Regions from separate parts of the Homo sapiens genome. Here region 1 is linked to region 2. Evidence: fine-mapped expression QTL. Tissue or cell type: whole blood. Region 2 holds a variant in brackets; the other region holds the start of a gene. All regions are shown on one strand. Distances are between the middles of the regions.

Region 1 (6,371 bases), 32 kb before region 2:
AAAACTCAGAGGCAGCCAGGCCGAGTTGCAGGAAACCAGCCTTGCCCACCGGGACCAGCCTTGGGACCACTGTTCCTGAAGAGGCAGAGCCCACTCCAGACCTGCCCAAGGGAGCCAGCCAGGCCCTGGAAAGAGCTTCAGGAAACAGGGCCATCACCTTGCATTTCATCTGTCCAAAAGGGTGTGGGAGAAGAGGGAGGTGGGCTGAGAGTAGGGAAGCTTTGCTTGCCTTGGATTCAAGTTAGCTTTTTATTATGGGAGAACTTTAAACTTACAGAAAAGTTGCAAAGACAGTGGGAAGGTTTCCCAATGCTCTATTCCCAGTGTCCCCTAACCTGGCATCTTACACGGTCATGGGACAACTGCCATAACTGAGAGATTAACCTTGATACTTACGGCCAAACTCAAGGCTGTGGGCTTTGCTAGTTCTTCCACCACTGTTCCTTTTTCTGTTCAGGGTCCATCGTTTCATTTAGTGGTGGAAGATGAGACACTCCAGGCTGGGTGAGGTGGCTCACGCCTGTAATCCCAGCACTTTGGAAGGCCTAGGCGAGTGGATCACTTAAGGTCAGGAGTTCAGGCCAGCCTGGCCAACATGGTGAAACCCTGTCTCCACCAAAAATGCAAAAATTAGCCAGGCATGGTGGTGCACGCCTGTAGTCTCAGCTACTCGGGAGGCTAAGGCCCGAGAATCGCTTGAACCCCGGAGACAGAGGTTGCAGCGAGCCAAGATCGCGCCACTGCGCTCCAGCCTGGGCGACAATGAGACTGTCTCAAAAATACAATAAAATAAAATATAAAGAAAAAGTAGACATTCCAGGCAGGTAGAGTGACAGAGGCAAAGGCTAGGGGTGGGGACCCATGCCCACGCCCCCATGTCTGTCTGACAAGTAGCCGGCCAGGTGGTTGGCGGTGGGGACTGGGGGGCCCTGTCAACTGGTGTGGAGGTGACCCAGAGTCCGGGGGCTGATCCGGTGCAGAGGGAGGAACAGGGCAAGGAGCTGGAGGTGGGGCAGTGCAGGCCGTGGAGGGCGCAGGCCCTGGGTTAAGCCTCAGCTCTGCCATACCTCCCTGGGCCACTGTTGTCGTATCCACTAAATGGGCCGAAACTAAAATAAGACATAACAAGGTCATGATAAAAAGCCATCAAAACCAGCACTGAACTAGAAAAGAAAAATCACATCGCTTCTCCAGGCCCCAAGTCTCCCTTCCTGAAATGTGAAGGACACACCCACCTCTGGCGGAAGTGCAGCTGCCGACTCTCCCGGCTCCGGAGGCCGCCCAGCTACCCCCAGCTCCATCCATGCGGTCCCCTCCCCAGGCCCAGCTGCCCGGCCCTCTCCGGCACTGGTTCCAGAAGGGTGGCGGCTGCCCTGCGCCACTGGCTTCCCAGAGCATATCCAGGACAGGCCCCGCGCGACCTTGGGCGAGGCCCCGCTGCTAAACAGAAAAATCACAGCGCGCGGTCCAGCCCCCTGCGCCCCGCGGGCTCCAGGCCTCGCCCTGCCCGCCCGCCCGCATCCCAGGGACAGGCAGACCCGCATCCCCGCCGCCGTCGGTCCCGGGACTCCCCAGGCTCCGAGGCCCCCCACGCCCGGCTCCCGCCCCGACCCCTCGGAGGCGCCGGGCCACTCCTACGCCCCGAGGCTGCCCGGCCGCCGCCCCTCTGTCCCGCGCGCCAATCGGCGGCCTCCTTGACTAAATAAGGCCAGGAGCGCCGGGCGGGCGCCCCCCGTCCGTTACTTCCGCCCCCCGCCCGCCGTGACTCAGGCCCGGCGGCGGGCGGGGATGGCGCTGCCCCGGGCCGGGCTTCCCGGCGGAGGCGGGCGGGGCTCCGGCGGCGCCGAAGTCGCCAAATATGGCCGCGCCACCGCCCCCCGCCGCGTACCTGGGCCACACCTTGACCCCTGCCGCGTGACGCGGCCGCGGAGGAGGAAGTCGCTCTCCACCCCCGGCCCGCGGCGGCGTCCCCTCCCCGCCCCTCCCCGCGGCTCAGGCCCTGCGGGTGGCGGGGAACCCGGGGGTCTCGAGGCGCCAGCCTCGCCCCCGCCCCCACGACCCTGGCGGCCTCGGGTCCGCAACGTGGGGAAGAAAGGTGGGGGACGGGGACGCGCGCCCGGGGCCGGCACCTCCCCGCACTTCCTAGACAAAGAAGCTTCGGAGGAGACCAGAGACCCGGAGGGGCAGGGTCCCCGGCCGGCCCGGAGCAGAACGTAGTGTGGGGTGAACGCAGGATGGAGGGGCTTGTGGCTATTCCCCACCCGCCTCGTGTCCCTCGGTGTGTGACGTCGCATCTTGGGACCCCCCAAGTGGAAGTCCTCACCCGGGGGTCGAGCAGGCTGTGTGGTTCTGCCCAGGGACGCGAGTCCGGGTGGGTCTGTTGGAGGCCCAGCCCCGGCTTCGCCACGGGAGGGAACATACCTGACAGCCTTGCCCGGGCCCCCGGAGATTCTGGGCCTGGGGGCGCTCAGCACCCCTGGGAGGCCTGGGGCACGGGGGCCTTAGGCACGGGTCTCGGCGTCCGGGCTGACTGCAGCCCGCAGGTGAGCTGGGCCGGCCGCCTTGCCCTGACTCGCTGTTGTCACTCCCAAACACGGGGTCGCGAGCTAACGTTGCAGGGCCCCGGACTCCGCGTGGGGACCCCGGCCCCGCCCCCCAGCCTGTCGAGTCAATCTGAACGCTCTGCGACCTCGGGCGAGTCCGTCCCCTCACTGCGCGGCCTCACTGCCACCCCTACGCGGCCGGCGCTCCAACCCTGAAAATTCCAGCAGCGCACAAGGAAACCGTAGTGCCGGGCGCCTCTCGGGGTGTAACCAAAGCACCGGCGCCGCTCCTGGCGAGGAGTGAGCGCCCTGGACAAGCCTGTGGCTAAACCCACGCCAGCCCTGATCGCTGCTCTTAACTAGCATCGTAAACAGAAGAGGGTATCCCCCCGACCGCCCGAAGCTGGGGAGCCGACCTTCAAAAAAGTCAGGGCTCCCATTGTCTACCTCAGTTTCCCTATAATGTCTACAGGTGACCAGAATGAAACAAAGGCCTCACTCCACACCACCTTCTCAGCACATAAGGGGGCGGGGTAGCCCCAACCCGGAGCGCGCGCCTGGGGACAATCAGGCCTGTGATTTGAGGGGCAGGGATGTGTCGGGTCGGGTAGAAAGGGGCCTCGGTCTTCAAACGAACGGAGATCCGGGGCAGGGCGCCCCGTGGAGGGACCTGCATGGTGGTGGCTGCGCTTGGGGACGGGCGGGCTGTTTCCTATGGTGACCGGGGCGAGGTGAGGGCTCCTGAGAGCTCCCCCGCGCCCAGGGACGCAGAGCGTCGCGGACCCCCGCCGCGCCCCTTCCTCAGCCCGGCACTGGCGCCCGAGATCCTCGTGGAGCCCGAGGGGAAAGATTGCAAGGGACGTCCCAGGGAGCAAAGCCCCGCAGCGTGGCCGGGGACTCGGGGACCCACCCCAGCTCCGGCGCGGCCCCGCCCCGGGTCAGGCAGTTTCGGGGCGCAGCAGGGCCCTCCCCACGGCGCGGCAGTCCCGGGGAGGGGCCAGGCCCGTCAGCCCTTCGGCCCTCCCGGCGACCCTCGGAGGGCGCCCCAACTCAGACCCGCCCGCCGGCCCGCGCAGGGTCGCGAGCGCGCGGGGGTGGCGCGGGCGGGGCCGTTGGGAGGCGGTGCGGGCTGGGGGCGGGGCGGGCCGGGGCCCCACGTGTCCCTGCCCGGCGGGCCAATGGGTGCCCGGCTTTCGGAAAGATCGCCATATATGGACATGTTCTGGGGCCGCGCGCGCCGCCGGGCCGCGCGGGCGCGCCGCTTCCGCTTAAATAACGGCGGGGGAGGCCGCGGTCGGTCTCAGTCGCCGCTGCCAGCTCTCGCACTCTGTTCTTCCGCCGCTCCGCCGTCGCGTTTCTCTGCCGGTGAGCGCCCCGCCCCGGGGCCTGAGCTGGACGTCGCAGGCCTGCGCCCCCCGACCCCGGCTGGCCCCGCTTCCAGCTGCCGAGGCCTCGTCGCGCCTTCCCCGGGAACAAAAGGCGGGGTGGGCCGGGTCAGGCGGACGGGGCTGGGGGGGCGCCGGGGGTCCAGGGCGGGGCCCGGCCGCAGTGCAGACTTCCGAGCCGTGGACGTTACGTAAAAGGCCCGGCCTTCGGTTCCAGGCGGTTGCGATCTTGGAGGCCACGGCCGCTGGGGTTGGGGCAGGGCCGAGGCTTCCCCGCGGGAGGGCATTAGGTGGCTGTGGGGAGGGGACCGTGTTACAGACGCGCCCGCCTGAGTCCATCCTTTTCCGGGCAGGTCGCAATGGAAGAAGAGATCGCCGCGCTGGTCATTGACAATGGCTCCGGCATGTGCAAAGCTGGTTTTGCTGGGGACGACGCTCCCCGAGCCGTGTTTCCTTCCATCGTCGGGCGCCCCAGACACCAGGTGAGTGGATGGCGCCGCGGGGCTCCTGGGTTCTGCGTTGCGGGGTGGGTTCGGTGTCGCCGGCGAGGCTGACGGGTCGTCCCCTGCAGGGCGTCATGGTGGGCATGGGCCAGAAGGACTCCTACGTGGGCGACGAGGCCCAGAGCAAGCGTGGCATCCTGACCCTGAAGTACCCCATTGAGCATGGCATCGTCACCAACTGGGACGACATGGAGAAGATCTGGCACCACACCTTCTACAACGAGCTGCGCGTGGCCCCGGAGGAGCACCCAGTGCTGCTGACCGAGGCCCCCCTGAACCCCAAGGCCAACAGAGAGAAGATGACTCAGGTGAGGCTCGGCCGACGCCCGTGCTCCTCCCGTCCTTTCCCCAGTCATTTTCTGCCCGGCTTGATTTCTGACATTTAAGTGTTTCTTTCGCTGTTCCAGGCTCTGTTCCTCTCCCGGCATTTCCTCCCTGAAGCCTCCAGGTTTCTCATTTGGTTTCTGCCTGCGTTCTTTTCTTTTCTCCACACATCACACTGGCATGCAGCATGTTGTGGCGTGTGAGCATGGGGTGGCCGTGGGTCTCTGTCCCTGACTAAGCCGCCCCTTGTCCCTTCTCAGATTATGTTTGAGACCTTCAACACCCCGGCCATGTACGTGGCCATCCAGGCCGTGCTGTCCCTCTACGCCTCTGGGCGCACCACTGGCATTGTCATGGACTCTGGAGACGGGGTCACCCACACGGTGCCCATCTACGAGGGCTACGCCCTCCCCCACGCCATCCTGCGTCTGGACCTGGCTGGCCGGGACCTGACCGACTACCTCATGAAGATCCTCACTGAGCGAGGCTACAGCTTCACCACCACGGCCGAGCGGGAAATCGTGCGCGACATCAAGGAGAAGCTGTGCTACGTCGCCCTGGACTTCGAGCAGGAGATGGCCACCGCCGCATCCTCCTCTTCTCTGGAGAAGAGCTACGAGCTGCCCGATGGCCAGGTCATCACCATTGGCAATGAGCGGTTCCGGTGTCCGGAGGCGCTGTTCCAGCCTTCCTTCCTGGGTAGGTGTTGTGAGCTAAAGGTTTCTACTCTTACATCCTCGGTGACACAGCATCACTAAGGGAGGGCTCTGTCCCCTAGGTATGGAATCTTGCGGCATCCACGAGACCACCTTCAACTCCATCATGAAGTGTGACGTGGACATCCGCAAAGACCTGTACGCCAACACGGTGCTGTCGGGCGGCACCACCATGTACCCGGGCATTGCCGACAGGATGCAGAAGGAGATCACCGCCCTGGCGCCCAGCACCATGAAGATCAAGGTGAGTCGAGGGGTTGGTGGCCCTCTGCCTGGCTCGGGAGAGCTGACTGGGGGGCGCTCTGTGAGCTGAAGCCGTGCCTGGCTGTCTTTGCAGATCATCGCACCCCCAGAGCGCAAGTACTCGGTGTGGATCGGTGGCTCCATCCTGGCCTCACTGTCCACCTTCCAGCAGATGTGGATTAGCAAGCAGGAGTACGACGAGTCGGGCCCCTCCATCGTCCACCGCAAATGCTTCTAAACGGACTCAGCAGATGCGTAGCATTTGCTGCATGGGTTAATTGAGAATAGAAATTTGCCCCTGGCAAATGCACACACCTCATGCTAGCCTCACGAAACTGGAATAAGCCTTCGAAAAGAAATTGTCCTTGAAGCTTGTATCTGATATCAGCACTGGATTGTAGAACTTGTTGCTGATTTTGACCTTGTATTGAAGTTAACTGTTCCCCTTGGTATTTGTTTAATACCCTGTACATATCTTTGAGTTCAACCTTTAGTACGTGTGGCTTGGTCACTTCGTGGCTAAGGTAAGAACGTGCTTGTGGAAGACAAGTCTGTGGCTTGGTGAGTCTGTGTGGCCAGCAGCCTCTGATCTGTGCAGGGTATTAACGTGTCAGGGCTGAGTGTTCTGGGATTTCTCTAGAGGCTGGCAAGAACCAG
Region 2 (8,115 bases):
GATCGAGATCATCCTGGCCAACACGGTGAAACCCCATCTCTACTAAAAATACGAAAATTAGCTGGGCGTGGTGGCGGGCACCTGTAGTCCCATCTATTCGGGAGGCTGAGACAGGAGAATGGCGTGAACTCGGGAGGCGGAGCTTGCCGTGAGCAGAGTTTGCGCCACTGCACTCCAGCCTGAGTGACAGAGTGAGACTCTGTCTCAAAAAAAAAAAAAAAAAAATTTAGCCAGGTGTGGTGGCATGTGTCTGTAGTCCCAGCCACTTGGGAGGCTGAGGTGGGAGCGTGGCTTGAGCCAGGGAGGTTGAGTCTGCCATGAGCCATGGTGGTGCAAATGCACTCCAGCCTGGGCCACAGAGCAAGACCCTGCCTTGAAAAAAAAATTTTTTTAAAATTTATAGCTGTAATTTCGGAAGCAGTGTGTGCACTGATGCCTGCTCCAAGCATGCTCTTGGTCTGGATGCGGCAGGATTTCAGTTCCAGGAAGCAGCTATTCTCTGCGCTAGAAGGCCGCTTCTCCCCAACAGAAAGGGCAGCAATGCTTCACCAGGTGTGTGCCTAACAGTTCTCAATCCCACTGGGAGAGCTGCGAGGGAAGTATGGCTCATTCGGAATGGACACACACAGGCGGCTCCAGTACAGAGAGGGGCTCTAGGCCCTGAAATGCTGTGCTCCTCGCAGGACACACAACTCCACGTGACGGGGATAACACGCGACACAGCTCCTGCATCGATGCTCCCCAGTTCCTGCCTGGCTGCTCCCCCAGCTCCTGCCTAGGTTCTCCCCTATCTCCTGGCCTTATGCTCCCCAGTTCCTGCCTTTGTGCTCCCCCAGCACCCCCAACCCAGAGTGCTCCTTCCCTCTGGCCAGGCCCCCTTCCCAGCCCCGCCCCTTCGGGGCTCAGGCGGGAACCGAGCTGGCTTTTTCCTCCCAACCAGAGCAGCTCCCTCTGGTTCCCAGGTTGCCTGCCCTTCCAGCTGGGAACACCGGCCTTGCAGGGAGGGGCGGGGGTGCTCACCACGAGGCGGCCACACAGGGCGCGAAGGGGTCCCAAGGCCCACCCAGGAGGAGCGCCTGTCTTTCCGTGGCGGGCTGCGCGCGCTGCCCACGCGGCCACGCTTGGAGCCTGGCAGGAGGCCGCCATCCCGGCCACGGCCGCTGGAGGGCGCCCCCGCACCGCTCCTGCCTGCCGGTTCCCGCGGGAGGGCGCCTGTGGCGGGCGCCGGAGGTTGATCTGCTGGTTCACGCCAGGATTGCGAACCGGCGGCCGGAGCGGGAGGCCGCAGAGCCGAGTTCAGGTCGCAGTCCTGACCCACCTGGCGGCGACTTCCTGTCCCGCGGCTGTGCTGCAGCTCTCCAGGTTGGGGTGAAAATGCAGAAACGGTCCCGTGGGCTAAGTCACGGACGTTCGTTTCTCACAGCGCCGCGTGCCTGCCTGCAGGCAACCGAGCCACGCACGCCGAGGCCGCCCCACCGCCCGGGGCCTGAACGCGCCGGCCCAGACCGGCAGCCCCCTCGGATCCTAAGACCTCTGCACCGCAGCGCAGGTGTGGGGGTCCTCAGCCGGCGCCATCCAAGCAAGAGCCGAGAGCGCGAGCGCCACGCCTTCCCCCACCCTCTGCCCTGCGCCCCTGGCTGGCGGTCCCTCCTGCAGCGGCTGGCCTGGAATTCGGGCTGCGGAAGGGGCTGCACCCACGCGGGGCTCACGCCATGGATGTGGGCGCTGGGAGGGTCTCCGGCTGTTTCCTGGTGCTGCCCAAGAAGCAGGTCCCTCGGCCAAACCAGCCCCTGTTCTGGTGCCCGCCGGTGCCCTCAGCCTGCGGGCCTAGAGGCCAGAGTGCTGGCGGATGGGCAGGTCCTGACCACGCCGTCCTCCCTGGGAGCTTACTGGTGAGACGCTCGTCTGCCTCAGGGGGCCCAATAATGGTCACTTGACATAAAGGGACAGAGGTGGTCTGTCCAGGGTGACGGTGACCACTGTCCTGGCATGTGACGGAGCCCAGGCCCTGGGCAAGCGCCATGCTGAGAGGGGCTGGCCGCCCGCTGCCGGTGGCCTGACTCAAGAAACCTCGCTCCCCTGAGCGGCAGCTGGAGGAGAGGCAGCGGCAGTGGACCTCTGGGGACGGATTGGAGGGGTGGCCCTGCGGCCCTTGCTTGGGCAGGAGGGACGCTGCAGCAGCTGCTGGAGCTCCCAGGCAGGGGCTGTCCCTCGGTCAGCTGGGTCACAGAGCAGCCGGCGCCTGCGTCATTCTCAGCCTGCCCGAGGGGGAGGCTTCCGCTCCAGGTGGGTGACCCGGGGCCCTTGCTATTACCCCCACAATGTTTCCTCTTTCCTCTCTGCCTCCTCCAGCCTCCCTAGGCAGCCTCCTCTCTTTCTCTGCTGGAGCCTCCCAGCTTCCGGAGGCCTCCTTGTGAGAGCAATAAAATGTCTTTGAAAGGAGGCTGGGATGTCCAAAGGGTCATCACAGGGCTGGGGGCTGAGAAGCCCAGAGGTGGCTGGGTAGGAGACACAGGCCTTGGCGTGCTTTCAGGGGACACACAACAGGGACAGTCCCCACTGACTTTCCTCCCACTCCCCCTCCACTAACTCACCTCCCTCTTGTCAACACGGGGGGTCTCCTGCCCTGGAACATTCAGGGAAAGAGGTGCGTCTGAACCCCGCCTGGGGAGACAGACGCCCTCAGGCTGTCCTCTTGGCTCCGCTCCCCTCTTTCCTCCTGTTCACCGCTCCCAGCCACCCCGATGGGGCCTGTTTAATTGATTCAATTTGTTCAACAGTAAAAACACTCCACAGATGTCAGCCTCCCAGCACCCCACCCCTGGGGAGCCGCAGACACCTGCCAAGCCTCTGGGGCTGGGAGTCCTTCCATGGGCCACTAACACCAGGATCTGGGGGAGGCCTCTGGGCCTGGGAGCTCGCGTGGGTGCCCCCGCTCACCAGACCAGAGCAGCCACTTCAGCCCAGGGACTGCTCCGTGAATGGCACCAGTGGCGTTCTGAACAGTGATCTGATGCAAATATGTCCTTCTGAAGGATTTAATGTTTTTAGACTCCCAGGTCTGGGAGGATGACCTTGGAGATGAGGTCAAGCTACCATCCCAGGCTCAGGCCACTCACTGTCAGGGTCCCACCTTCTTCATCAACCTGGGCTCGGGGGGTTTTCCAGGTAATCAGTGCTGGGAGGGGGACTGAGGGCTCCCAGGGTCCTGATCCTGTCCCCTGCAGGGGAGAGGCCCCTCGCCTACAGATTGGGAGCCCTGCATCCACAGCTTCAGCGCGGTGGCCCGTCCTACTCCCAGGGATGTGTGTGGCCACAGCCACGCTGGGAGATGCTCTCAGGTGTTGTCTAAGGGAAGACGTGGGCCTGGAGGTCAGGAGACCCAGGCTGAACCCCTGACGCCCCTGCCCGGACCACAGCCCTCTCTCCCTGTGAAGGTCCCTGGTCCCTGGGGCCACCACTTTCCACCCCAGAGGGAGGCCCCTGCGATTGATTGGTTGGCTGAGTGACTGAAGCGGGGGACGGTTTAGGGGAGCATTTGCACAGCTGGCCAGGCTGTGACTGTGGGGGCCTCTGCCCACCCCCATCCAGCCCCACCTTGGACGAAGACGCCCC[A/C]GCCGTGATTAGGAGAAGGCTCACCCTGAAAACGGTCTCAGGTTAGAGTTACCAGGACATCTGCCTCTCCAGCTTGGGGGTCTCTCACGTGCCCCTCTCAGGCAAGATCGGGCCTATCATTGGCTTAGGTTTTAGGAAGGTCCCAAGCTCATTTGCCAAGGGCTGAGCTTCCCCATAACTCCCAGGACACAGGGAGAAGACAAGGGGAGGGAAACTGAGGGACGGAGATGAAAGCGCTCGTCCCAGCGAAGGACCCGCGCTTCAGGCGCTGGGCCCTGGCGGCAGTGAACAAGCTGGGGGTGGGGCGTCGGGCCGCGCCCCCGCCCTCCGGACCCCCAGCGCGGACCCCTGCTCCGGGGCGGGGGCGCTCACAGTCGCGCGAACCCGGAGGTGCGGAGAGAACAAAAGGGGTCCCGCCCCCTCCCCCGGGCCGGCCCGCCGCAGCCAATCGGCGCGGCCGCTATCGCCTCCGCTCTCTGATTGGCTGTGCGGCGGCCAATCGGGTGAGGGGGCCGCCAGCCCGTGCGGCCCCACGTGGGGCGGCGCGAGGGGCTGTTAGAGGACCGCAGCGGGCGGGGCGCGTGGTTCGATCGCGCGCTACGCGCCTCGGGGACGCGGTCCGCGCCACCCCCAGCCGTCCCTGCCGTCCCGAGGCCCCCAGCGAGCGGCGCCGTGGCTTCGGGCGCGCGGGGCTCGGGGCCATCGCCGGGTGCTGTGCGGTTCCCGGCTCGGAGGCGCTGGGCCGGCGTCGCGGCTGCCCCCTGCCCACGCGGGAGGGAAGCGAGCGGCGCTCAGGGACCAGGAGCGAAGGCCTTGCCACCTGGCGAGGCGGGGAGGCCAAGGTGGGCTGTGGAAGGAAGAGGCGGGCCTGCCGCTGGTGGTGGTGGGATCAATTCATTCATTCATTGAGTCCGTCATTGACACCTCCTACTCCAGGGCCCTCGGGACACAGACAGCGGTGGCCTCAGCGGAGGCTTGGGGGCTAGCCTCCCCCTAGTTTCCATTAGTCTCCCCTCCAAACTACTTCAAGTGGAACGTACAAGCATGTTTTTTGATATGGGCAATTGACACAGTCTTACATTTTTATGGCACCCTCAGACAGGGTATTTGAGGAGAATTGAATAAATGGAAAATACGTGAATTAAAGGAGAGCTGTGCAGTACCCAGGGCCAGCAACAAAGGGGAGCTGTTACCCCCTGAGACCTGGAGGGCAGCTGGAGCCACAGGAGAGGCCGTCTCCAGGAGCCCTGACCTTGGAGAGGGACACAGCGACCCGGCAGGGAGGAGCTGCTGCTGTACACTGACCTCACCCCTCCTGACCGCTTGGCTTGTCTACCGGCTACGCATTGGCTGAACTAGGTGGAGGCCAGGGAGCAACGAGGCCCCATGGATCCTGTACCTACAGTCAGCTTCCCGGGGCACAGAGCAGGGGCTGGCATGGGGCAATGGGAAGATGTCCAGCACCTGTTTTGAAGTGTGAATAAAAGCATCGTAGAAAATGTTGCTGTTTTGCTTTGTTTTGTGGATGTGTAGCCCATGCAGAGGCAGCCTAAGATGGGGCACGACCAGGCTGGGCCCCGCCTCTTGCAGATCCACTAGGAGCCACCCCAGAGCCAAGGGGACCTTCCTTGGAGGGTTTCCCATCCTGAAAGTGATGAGTCACAAAACGAGGCAGGACTGAGGACGAGGAATGCCCCGTGTCAGCGCACGTGCACGGTGTTGTTCAGGCCCTCTTCCTGGGGGTCCTCCTGGATGCTCCAATGCTTGCCCATCTTGGCAGCTGTCACAAGCCACTGCTGGGACTGTAATTCCCCAGGGCAGGGACTGATCCTGTTTGCTGTTGCCCCTTCATGGGGCCTGTATCTGGAAGGAGGATGAATCTGCCCGTGTGAGGCCTGAGATGGGGGCTTCCCTCTGAGGCAGGGGACATGTATTCACTCATCAAACCTTCTCAGGGGAGCCTTTGTCTGCCAGGTTGGGCTTAGCCCCAGGAGCCCAAGGAAGAAAGGATGTAGTTCAGACTTGGAGACATGTGTGACCCAACACTGCAGCCATGCACAAGTTCCTGATAAGGTGGCTCGGGCCCAGGTCCCCTGAGAGGCTCAGGAGGGGGAGGACTCTTGGATAATGAGGAGAGAGGGGGTGGCACTTGAGGTGGCTTTGAAGGGCAAGGAGGAGTAGGAGTGGTGGAGAAGCTGAAGAAAAGCAGGGGGCAAGGAGGTGCCACCATGGGGATCAGGGACGTGGCATCCGGGGGAGTGTGGCTGTGCACAGCTGGGCCTCTGCCGCAGGCATCAGGAGGCTGGGGCGAGGCACCCCTGTCCCTGGCTTCTCCGCCTGTGGTATGGCGATGATGATAGGGTTGTTGGGCAGGGTGAGGGGATGTAGGTGACGTGCAGCACACTGTCTTGGTAATTACAGGCTCGATAAATATACATGAGCTGTCATTATAAGCATTTGTTGCAGTTGAGGAGGTGGTGGTGGGCTTGGCTGGAGTGAGCTGCCTGTGGGGGGCTGTGAGGTTAGTGCGAGGATGGCCGTCTTTCAGGGACATGGAGGCTGCCTCTCGTTCCTGCAGCGCATGTGGCAGACATCACTAATCCATCAGCCACTCTCTCCCACGGAGCCCAGCGGTGGCCTCGGGCCCTCAGATCATTCTCCAGGCAGCCCCTGCTAATCAACCACAGCTGGCACACAGATGGCCCTGCCTGCCATCTCCAATTCCACCGACATCAAAAACTGGGATCCGGGCTGGGGGTGGTGGATCATGCCTGTAATCCCAACACTTTGGGAGGCCAAGGTGGGCGGACTGCTTGAGCCCAAGGAGGAAGAAGCTGCAGTAAGCCGTGACTGCGCCACTGCATTCCACCCTGGGGAATAGAGGGAGTCCGTCTCAAAAAATAAAATAAAAGGCCGGGCGCGGTGGCTCACGCCTGTAATCCCAGCACTTTGGGAGGCTGAGGCAGGTGGATCACGAGGTCAGGAGATCCAGACCATCCTGTCTAACACGGTGAAACCCCATCTCTATTAAAAATACAAAAGATTAGCCGGGCGTGGTGGCGGGTGCCTGTAGTCCCAGCTACTCGGGAGGCTGAGGCGGGAGAATGGCGTGAACCCGGAAGGCAGAGCTTGCAGTGAGCCGAGATCGTGCCACTGCACTCCAGCCTGGGCAACAGAGTGAGACTCTGTTTCCAAAAAAATAAAAAAATAAAAAAAAAGTGAAGTAGGTGCACCAATCTTTTTTTTTTTTGAGACAGAGTTTTGCTCTGTCGCCCAGGCTAGAGTGCAGTGGCACAATCTCGGCTCACTGCAAGCTCTGCCTCCCGGGTTCACCCTATTCTCCCGCCTCAGCCTCCCGAGTAGCTGGGACCACAGGCACCCGCCACCGCGCCCAGCTAATCTTTTTTTGTATTTTTAGTAGAGATGGGGTTTCACTGTGTTAGCCAGGATGGTCTGGATCTCCTGACCTCGTGATCTGCCTGCCTCGGCCTCCCAAAGTGCTGGGATTACAGGCGTGAGCCACCGCGCCTGGCCAGGTGCACCAATCTTAAGCTGCAGATCACTGGACTTTCACATTCGTGCACATCCGTGCAACCGCCAGCCCGGTCCAGAGAACTCCCAGCCCTTAGAGGCTCCCTCGTGCCCCCTCCCATGCAAGCCCAGGAGCGCTCTGCCACCCATCCCGGAGACTGCTCTGCCTGATCCTTAGTCCGCGCCAGCAGAGCTGTACAGCCGTCCTCTCCGAGGCTGGCGCCTTCACGCCACACAATGCTGCCCGTGCTCACTGCATTGCTGCGTCCTGCGTGTGTCTGTGGTTGTTCTCTTGCGTTGCTGTGTTGTAGTCCATTGTATGGATGTAACACTTTATCTACCAAGTCTCTTGTTGACAGACATTTAGATTATCTCCAAAGTCTGTGAATAGTGTTGCTACAAACATTCTAGTGTGTGTCTCCTTGTGCCCGACAGTGGGGGTTTCTGGTGGATGTTAGCAGACACTGCTAGCTCTGCAAGCCACTGTCCTGACCGCTGCTCCCACCCGCAGTGTGGGTGGGTTCTGATTGCCCCACATGGTGCCAGCACTGGGGACTGTCTGTCCTTTCCTATAGGCCAATCGGGGGGTGGGGGAGACACTCTACCTCTCCATCCTTCTGATGCCCCTGTGGATGGGAGACTTACTGGGGGGCCTGTGCCCCCACACAGCCACCAGCAAGCGCTGGGGCCGCTCCTGGAACACCAGCCTCAGTTCCTTCCTCATGTTTGAAACCCAAGTTCAGAAAATGAAACGTGGCTGGGTGTGGGTCACTGGAAGGCCCCGAGGCCTGCAGCCTCAATGCAAGGTCAGGAAGGGGGCAGAGAAGACAATGGGGTGGAAGAAAAGGGCTGGGAGGGGGACTCTGGGCATTGGGGGAGGGTAGAGAGAGGGACAGGAGTGGCTGGGGCCGGGGTAGCCGAGGAAGGGGTGGGGAGGGTGGTGGGTCACGGAGTCAGCACTCACCAGGA

What was found. PIP is the estimated chance that this variant, and not a neighbour inherited with it, causes the effect.
Region 1: ACTG1 starts here. The variant in region 2 is fine-mapped to the expression of ACTG1 in whole blood (TOPMed, PIP 0.93).

What each region holds. Positions count from the first base shown.
Region 1 is chr17:81,510,271-81,516,641 of GRCh38, reverse strand. ACTG1 (actin gamma 1) reads left to right here and starts at 3,843. Exons shown (of 6, transcript NM_001614.5): 1 at 3,843-3,908; 2 at 4,282-4,410; 3 at 4,500-4,739; 4 at 5,016-5,454; 5 at 5,534-5,715; 6 at 5,809-6,371. The coding sequence starts at 4,288. The coding sequence ends at 5,952. It also overlaps a transcript of FSCN2 not described here. RefSeq lists enhancers at 188-237, 972-1,595, 2,738-2,787, 2,818-3,097, 4,308-4,397 and 1 more and silencers at 1,358-1,407, 1,478-2,197, 2,418-2,607, 3,238-3,717, 3,918-4,087.
Region 2 is chr17:81,477,524-81,485,638 of GRCh38, reverse strand. It overlaps LINC01971 (long intergenic non-protein coding RNA 1971), which reads left to right and starts at 4,173. Exons shown (of 2, transcript NR_184097.1): 1 at 4,173-4,457; 2 at 4,714-5,114. RefSeq lists a silencer at 892-1,301, a cis regulatory region at 659-1,456 and an enhancer at 1,360-2,010. The variant A/C (reference allele first, on the strand shown) is at 3,616.